Linked DNA regions of Homo sapiens: region 1 is linked to region 2. Evidence: fine-mapped expression QTL. A gene starts in region 2. The other region holds a variant in brackets. All regions are shown on one strand. Distances are from middle to middle.

Region 1 (4,473 bases), 38 kb after region 2:
CCTTAATCTTGCATAATGATTTGAATAATTCAGCTCACAAAATTCCTGAGAATTTAACAACCGGCTCTAGCATACCGGCACAAGCTGGCCCCCAGTGCATCACTGACGGGGAGGCCGAGTGTCTTGAGGCCACACTGCAGATCAGGGTCCTGCCTGCAGCCAAGTGGGGACAAGTGGAGAATAACTTGCCTCCTGGGCTCTCCTGAGTCCCGAGCCTGACAGCGGAGGCCCAGGTGGGTGACCCTGCTTTGTGCTCGGTGGCAGGGGAAGGGGGGTGGGCCTGTGGGCCTGGATGGAGAACCTGTCCCCATGGCTGTCATGTCCCTACACCAGCTGCTGCCAGCCACTGTGGGGTTCGCAAGTCCCCACTCGCAAAACGGCTACTGTTTTCCACAACCATGGGATACAAGGATGTCCCCTTGGGCTCCTTCTCATCTCTACTCTCTGCTGGCCTCTTTGCACAGATTGATACCTGGGATGCTGAGCCAGGACCAGAGGGAGGTAAAGACACACCTGGGGTGCAAAACTGAAGGAGGCCCTGATGCTTGAGGTTGTTCAAGTGCAGAGAATGTTTGTGTATGTGTGAAGCACACAACCACACGTAGCATCTAAAAGGACATTTGATGTTCTGCACTTAATAGATTAAGCTGGTTCTGACCTTCTAGCCCCTGGGCTTCTGATGAGTCTCCTGGTAGCCTGTCAGCTCCTGATCTTGGATGGGAGCTTGTGTGTAGGTGGGCACTCTTCTGCAAAGTGCGTTTATGGCTTTTATCTGGTTTCCTCTGATCAGAAAGATCTGGGGGTGCTGGCACACCCAGACGACTAGTAACTCCCAAAGGGAGAGGTGCAGCTTTGTCACCTGCCCCTGTGTCAGGTGGGACGTGAGATGCTCTATTTTTTTCTGCTCCATCCTGTGCCCAAGCCTTATACAGGGTGACCCTTTTCAGAGAGGCCTTTGCCACCAGGTCAGTGTGAGCATGTGGCTGGGTGATTTCCTGCCGTGGACCAGGGATCTGTGTGCTGTCTGAAGTAAGCAAGGGTGCTCTTTCTTGGCAAGGTCTGAGGGCTGAGACTTGCAAGGAGACACCTGCTCTCTTGGTCACCAGACTGGAGGTTCCTATGTGCAGGTGTGGAGGATGGAAGAGGTCACTCTGTCCTCTTTCTTGCCTGGGCCTCACCTCTGCTGAGGCTGCTGGCTGCCCTGGGCTCGCAGTGAAAGGGGCCATCTTCCACCCTCCCCTGCTGGTCAAGTGCATCTTTCCAGGTTCCGGCACTCCACGTTGCCACCCAGACAAGTGTCCTGTGGGAACTAGCAAGTGGGAATCAAAACTACCCCCAGAGAGGCTCCTGGCCGGGAGATGAAGGGATCTACCCTGGGGCTAAAGTCTCCCCAGCCTTTCTTGGAGCTTAGGTCCTGGCTTTAGAAAGATCCCATTCACATCCAGGCACAGTGGCACACACCTGTAATCTCAGTACTTTGGGAGGCCGAGGCAGGCGGATCACTTGAGGTCAGGAGTTTGAGACTGGTCTGGCCAACATGGCGAAACTGTCTCTACTCAAAATGCAAAAATTAGCTGGGTGTGGTGGTGTGCGACTGTAATCCCAGCTACTCAGGAGGCTGAGGTAGGAGAATTGCTTGAACCCAAGGAGGCAAAGGTTGCAGTGAGCTGAGATCGCACCATTGCACTCCAGCTTGAGCAACAGAGCGAGATTCCATCTCAAAATAAAGAAAGGAAGGGAGGAAGGAAGGAAGGAAGGAAGGAAGAAAGAAAAGAAAAGAAAAGAAAAGAAAAGAAAAGAAAAGAAAAG[A/AAAAGAAAAGAAAAGAAAAG]AAAAAAAAAGAAAAGATCCCATTCACCTGCACAAAAGCCACACCCCTTTGTGGCCAAGGAAAGGGCCACAGAAGAAGAAGTAGGCCCTTCAGAAGGGGGAGAAGTAGGCGCCTTCAGAAGCTGGTTATCCGTGTGTAATGCCATCACAGGGACGTGCGTTTAAGATCTTTTATCAGTCTTCGTAGCTAAATACTTTTAGTTAATTGCAGGCGGGAGGGGCTACTAGCTCAGGCTACATGGAGCATGTGCTCAAAAACTGTCTCCAATATGGTGACTTGCTGTTTGAGGACGGTCTAAGCGACTGAGGAGTGTGCCCCCTGTTCCCACCCTTGAGATGAGGCCTGATAAGGGTGCTGGCATATTTAGTGTTGGGCACCCTGGTGCTCTCCAGCATGTGGTGTTTGGCCTAAGTGGCCCATGTGGACTTTGTTTCAAGGATTTTACGACAAGAAACACCAAAATGAGGACATCTCTGTGGCCATGTTTCAGGCAAGGGGGTAATGGATACAGAGCATATGTACACACAAACACACATGCACAGAGACACGTACAGACACATACATGCACACAGACACATAGATACAGACACATACACATAAGAATACACACAGAAACACACAGACACCCACACATATACACACATGCACAGACATGTAGAAATACCTAGACACAGAGGAACACACAAAGATACACAGGCACACATACAGGTACATCTACATGCTTATCAAAAACAACAGCAAAACCACCTACCATGACAAATACTATTGCAGCAAAACTGAACAAATAAATTCTGTGCCATAAAGTTTCCTAAACCTCATCTATTTTGTAGAAATCTAGTCACTTGAGTATCATCCTTCACAAAGTTCTTTCTATTCTTTCTACTGTACAAAGTTTTCTGTTGTCAAATAGCAAGAGATCTCTGTTTTCTACTTGGAATGGGCCTGGAGAAGGGAGACAGCACCCGCTCCCTCCACCCCTTGTCCCTGAGCACAGCATGGTGACCTGCCAAGCCAGAGGGTGACCTGGACACTCATAACTCAATGCAGGGCCAACTGTAGCCTCTGGCCGGTGTCCCTGAGTGAGGGCAAAGTTGTAATAACACTTGTTCTCTCCTTTCTCCAATTTGCTCCCAAGCTCCATTGCTTTCGTTCAGGCCCTCCCCCTTCTAGACTGGGCAGTTCCGCATCCTTGGAGCTCATTTCTCTGTCTTCAGAATCTGATGCTCCAATTCATCCCATGTGTGGCTGCCAAGGTCTTTCTAAAACTCAAATGTGGCCCTATCACCGCACAGGGTAAAGCCACCATAAACTCCTCTGTGTTTGAGAACAAGGGCCAAGTCTCCCATTGAGGCCTCCAGGGAGTGGACAGTCTGGGTCTCCTTTCTTCTCCAAGCACGCTGGGCCCATCTGTCCTGTCCCTGAGGACTCCCTGGCACACATGACACTTCAGAGCTTTTGCCAACTCCACTCCCTGCCTGAAATGCCCATCTCCTTCAGAGAGCTTCTATGTATCCTTGGAGGTCCAGTCCTAATGTCCCTGCCTCCGATAAGACCTCTCCCCATCTTCCTCTCGCCCTGCTCCTGTCCCCGCCAGGCATGACAAATCTCTTCCCACAGTGGGCCCAACAGGGAGGCAGATGGTAGAACAGGTTTTGGGCCAGGTGCCAGGTGCACGTGGCTCTTCATCCTGGTTCCCCACCGCACACCTGGAGAGCTGAGTGCTTTTCCTGAGGTCACGCAGAAGGTTACCAGCCTGGCTCTGGAGCTGTCTCTTTGCCACATCGTGGGGTGTCTTTAAGGTGACCTTGAATGTGCTTGAAGCTGTTTTATGTCCTATTTGCAGACCTAGGGGAGGACAATGCCAGGGCTTTTTGCCTTCCCAAGGTCACAGCCTGAAGACACTCAGAAAGATGTAGTTGGCTCATTTATCATTTTTTAGAAAAAAAGAAAACAACAGAATGTGCTGAATCCTTGTAACTGTTGGCCATGGCACTAGTTTCATGGAAGGTGGAAGGGCAGGTTAGGCTTCTTATGAGGGCGTTCCTGGCCTCTGGAGGGGTGTGGGTGGGCTCAGGTGAATGACTGACAGACTGGATTTACGTATGTTGAGTGTGAATCTCAGTCCACAGCTTGGTGTGCAAAAACAGAAAAGCTATCTGGTAATAGCTACATCTCTGTTGGGGAGAGGAAACTGACCTCTCAATTCAGGGTCTTCATACCTTTCTCCAGGGTGGGGTCTAAGTTCTGGGAGCCTCATGAGTCTCAGGAATTCTGGGGTGGCCTATTTGGTCTTTGTCATCAGTCCATGCAGGGGGCTGCTAGAATGTCATGTCAGCCTCTGACCCTGGCCAAGCCCCCTCTCAGAGATTCCAGGCCACATCCCAGGTTGAGGGATGCATCCTCCCACTCTGGGGCCCCCCAGGTGGGACTCTCAGGGAGGCCACTTGAGACGCGGTTGCCCAAACTGACTCAACAAGATCTCTCAGTCACGGGCTGAAAGATCTGCATCACGGGCTGAAAGCAGGAAAGTTCTTTTGTCTCTCTTTCTGCTTTCCTGTGACAATGGGTGCAGAACCATCGTGAATGGTTCAGGTGCGGGTAGGGAAAATAACAAATAGGAGGAAGAACAATCTCAGAAAGGCAGGTAGCCTGTCCCATCTGCTG
Region 2 (4,000 bases):
GTGCATTTGCACAGTAACAGCCAGCCAGGCTAATCCTAAGGGATTTCCAGTTAGTGGCACGTGCGTGCTCTCCCACCCCTGGTCTGGAAACCAGGAGCAAAGTGCTCAGTTACTCATTTTCCGCCTTTGCAAGCAGCTCAAGTCCCTTGGGAAAGCACAGCTCCCAAAGGGTTCTGGGAATACCGGGGCTCCTGTAGGGCCAACGGGGCTTTCTGTGAGCAAGATTTGCCTAGAGAACACAGCAGCCAGGGTGTGAGAAGCCTAGCAAGTAGTTTCTTCCTCATTGGCCTGGGGCTCTGTGGCTCTCTCTCAGCAAATAGTTAGGCATGGCCTTAATTTATTTCCCTGCCAGAGTTCCTCCTGGAGGGGGGCCAAGCTAGTAGACAGGAAGGCGGGGACTGGCAATTTAGTAGAAATCCATGCATGTAATTGCGAGGACCAGAAGAACAGGAGCAAGTGCGCAGGGAGTCTGGGGGCTCTGGGCAGGCAAGGAGGAGAACAGGGTGTGGGGGAGCAACCCTTTCTTCTGCTTCAGGTGGGAAGAATTGAGGCCGGCCAGGCCCAACAACACAGCCTTGCAAGCTCCTAATAGAAGAAATGGCTTTCCTGGCTCCACAGGGTTCCTCAAGCAGGCAGGGGACCTTCTCAGGTCATAAGATGAGCCCCACGACACAGTTCTCATTTCATCTGGGCGTGAGTGGTTTCTGCCCCTCTCTGGGCCTTAGATGCCTCAGATTTCCCAAAGCAGCCTTCGTCTGAGAGCACTGTCCCGGGAGTCAGGCACGTGAGGCTGACTCTCTGCTCTCTCACCAGGTGTGGGAGCCACACCAGGTCACTCAATTTCTTAGAGTCCCATTGGCAAAACGGATAATAGAGTCTCCTTGAAGACTGATGGGGAGGATGGAGTGACCAAGGGATGCGAAGGGTTTCTAAGTAGTGCATGGTCCATAAATGCACTCAAGAAAGAAGAGCTGTCATCTTTATCCATTCCAAGCACAGCCCATGGCTGCTTTCCAAGCTCCTTAAAAACACGCTGCAGAAGTTCCTATCCTGCCAACGCCCTCAGGCAACAGGCGCCACAGCACCTCTGCTTTCCCAAGACTTTGTCCACGCTCTCCACGCTCCATCCCGAGCTTAGTGAGGGGCAGGACTGTGTCTACTGTGTCAGTGGGAAGCTGCTTTGGAGCATGTGCCCCTTGGTGAAAACCCTGTGGATAGGACGTGATCTCATCTTCTGGGATTCTCCAGCAATGACGGGGAGTTTGTGGAAACTTGACTTGGGAGAACCTGCTTGCAGGCATACGGCAGTGGCCAGCCCCCAACCTAGAGTCAACCCTCCTTCCAGATCTTCCCAGGAGGTCCCAGTCCTCAGAATTCCCTCCAAGCCCCGCCGGGAATAAAAACCAGGCAGTAACGGGTGTGCAGAAAACCTATACATCCAACCTAACTTGGCTGAAGAAGACACCCTCCCCCCCGCCGTCTGTGCTCCGGTGTCTCGGTGACTCAGGGTGCCCACCTTCACGGCTGACCTGCTCATTCCCGGGGGCCCCTGCGGCTGTGCCGTTCCCTCAGGTCACACTGGCTTGGGTCCTTAGAGCACCCTTGGGTCCAGGTGCCCTGGGCCACCTCCCATTAGTTAGGGACCGCATCCGTGGGGACAGAAACTTCCATCTCACTGAACCTATACACAGGAGCCAGGCTGGGCTTGGAGGTCACCAGCCGCCTGGGAGTGGACCCGGAGAGGCTGAGTGCGGCCCTCCCTCTCAGACGGCAGACCCCGAACCTCCACCCAGAATCCGAGCCCGGACACGGCCAGCAGGGAGCTAGGAGATGAAGTCCAGCCCTGGCTGCCCGGCTCCTCTGGGAGGGCAGCGAACCCGCGGGAGCGCATGAGCGGCCTCTCCCGGGGGGGCGGTAGGAGCGCGTCCCCTCCAGGGCGCTTTGGGATCGGGCTGCTCCGGGCCAGTGCTCGCGCTGGGGACCTGCGACGCCTCAGCCCCTGCCCAGACTGCGCCGCCCGCCGCGGCCACACCTCCCAGTCCCTGGGAAAGTCCCCGCCGCCGGCGCGAACCCACCTTCCGGGAGCCCAGGGGCCCTGCTGGGGACTCGCCGGTGTCCCCGCCGCCTCCTCCTGCGCGGGTCCGCGCTGCCCGGCCTCAGCTCAGGGCTCCCGCCTCGCCTCCCCGAGCTCCGGTGAATTCTCGGCGCTGCTCCTTTCGGAAAGGACTTTTTTTTTCCCCCTGCGTTGCGTCAGGGCGGTTGCCTGGCGACGGCCGAGCTCTCCGCCGCGAGCCTTTCACCGCGATCCCGGCCTCGCGTTCTCGCCCCGGGTCCGAGCGCGCCCCGGGTCCTAGCGCCCTGTCGGTTCACCGGCCCGGGCAGCCCCCGCGAGTGGAGAGGAACTACATGCCTTCGCCAAACCCCAGATGAAACCAAACCCAAACATCCATTTTCTCATTAAACCCGAAACCAAGGCAGTTTCCCCCAATTGTGGCAACGTGACTGCGCCACTGTCAGAAGTTTGTCCGCATGGAGGGCGCAGGGGGACCCCACGCCCAGGGCCTCACCCACCCCCAAACGGCAGGAGTTCATAGGACCCGCGGCCACGACTGCCCGCGAGCGCCTACCGTGGGCCACGCCCCCCAACGACCCAGCAGGGCAAGTGTAGGCATCTCTGGCTGCCAGATGAGGAAACTGAGGTGCAAAGACGCGAGCGTTTGCCCCACTAACCACAGGGTGTCTGTCCCGCCAGGGGCGCGGCATCGGCCACCTCTGGCTGTCGTTAGATTCTAAGACCCAGTCCCTGCTGCATCAGAGCCCAGAGCTGCAAACCCTAAGGCACAGGCAGGACAGCAGCCCGAGCTGCCCGGACCGCAGGTCTTCAGGACCAGTCCCAGCTTCTGACGAGGGGCCCAGGCCAGACACTGGAGGCCCCAAGGCTGGTTACTGGATGGGGGTCTCTTACCCCAGACCTCATCAAGCACCTTTCCTAGATGCCCGGGGCTGGAAGCGTCTTTCAAAGGGCTCCAGTCTGCCATTCTCACGATAGCCCTGGGCGTGCGCGCAGGCGCCGCCTACATGGCCAGACGCGAAGCTGAGTGGTGGGGCTGCAAAGTGACTGGCGCAGGCTCCAGGCAGGTGCGCGGCTGGTCGGGCCTTCTGTGGGGTCTTAGCCCCTGCAGGGGCCCGAGACACTCGTGCTGCCCTCTGGTGCCCGCGTCCTTCACTGCAACTCCGCATCCAGCCCTGACCTACTCCCTTCCTTTCTGACCTTCACTGGAAGGTCCTCTGAGGGACGTCGTCTAAGGAGACATCTTGCCAGTACAGACCTAGTCATGCTAATGAGGGAACGGTCCTAAGCTAGCGGGTGTATTAACAAGCATCTTTTGGAGAGTCACAGCCTTGATCCAGATCTTCTGATTCCAGCTCCTAAACATCACTCCTTCCTTCTTCCTGCCCGCTGCCACTGTCCCTACCCAAGCCACCAGCAGCTTGCCCTACCCAGTTCTGGGACCTGCCACCCGGGTCCAAGCGTGCACGCAGTCTCCATACTGATCTCCCTTTACCCTCTCTCAGCGCCTCCCAAGCCAGTTACTCCTCCACAAACAGGGGAAACTCTTAAGAATGGAAATCCAGTCTCAGCTGCTTCTGCTTAAAGGCCTTCAACGCCCCCAGTCCTCTGAGGATTAACAGCTAGCTTGGCTGCAGGGGCCTGGCTGGCCTCTGTCCGTCTCTAGGGCCTTGTCTTGCACAGACCCTGCTCCCCAGACAACAGACCCTCTTCCAGTCCCATTGTGCACCTGCTCCTCCCGACAGGCTGCTGCAGCTCTGCCTCCTAAGGGAACCCCAGGTTACAGGTGCTGGCAGCCCCCTGCCTTATGTCCTTCATGGACCAGTTATAATTCCAAGTTTACCTGTGAGGTTATTTGATTAGTATGTGTCTCCCTCTGAGGCAGTAGGCTCCGGAAGGGCATGAACCATGTTTGCAAGCAGGAGCCTC

Evidence for each region. PIP is the estimated chance that this variant, and not a neighbour inherited with it, causes the effect.
Region 1: its variant is fine-mapped to the expression of FAM167A in lymphoblastoid cells (GEUVADIS, PIP 0.95).

The regions. Positions count from the first base shown.
Region 1 is chr8:11,502,603-11,507,075 of GRCh38, forward strand. The region is part of intron 1 of BLK (BLK proto-oncogene, Src family tyrosine kinase); the gene reads left to right. Among named protein-coding and RNA genes, the nearest start is that of BLK, 10 kb to the left of the region's middle. RefSeq lists enhancers at 774-913, 4,201-4,260. The variant A/AAAAGAAAAGAAAAGAAAAG (reference allele first, on the strand shown) is at 1,810.
Region 2 is chr8:11,464,551-11,468,550 of GRCh38, forward strand. FAM167A (family with sequence similarity 167 member A) reads right to left here and starts at 2,203. Exons shown (of 3, transcript NM_053279.3): 1 at 2,076-2,203. RefSeq lists a silencer at 1,911-2,120 and an enhancer at 3,366-4,000.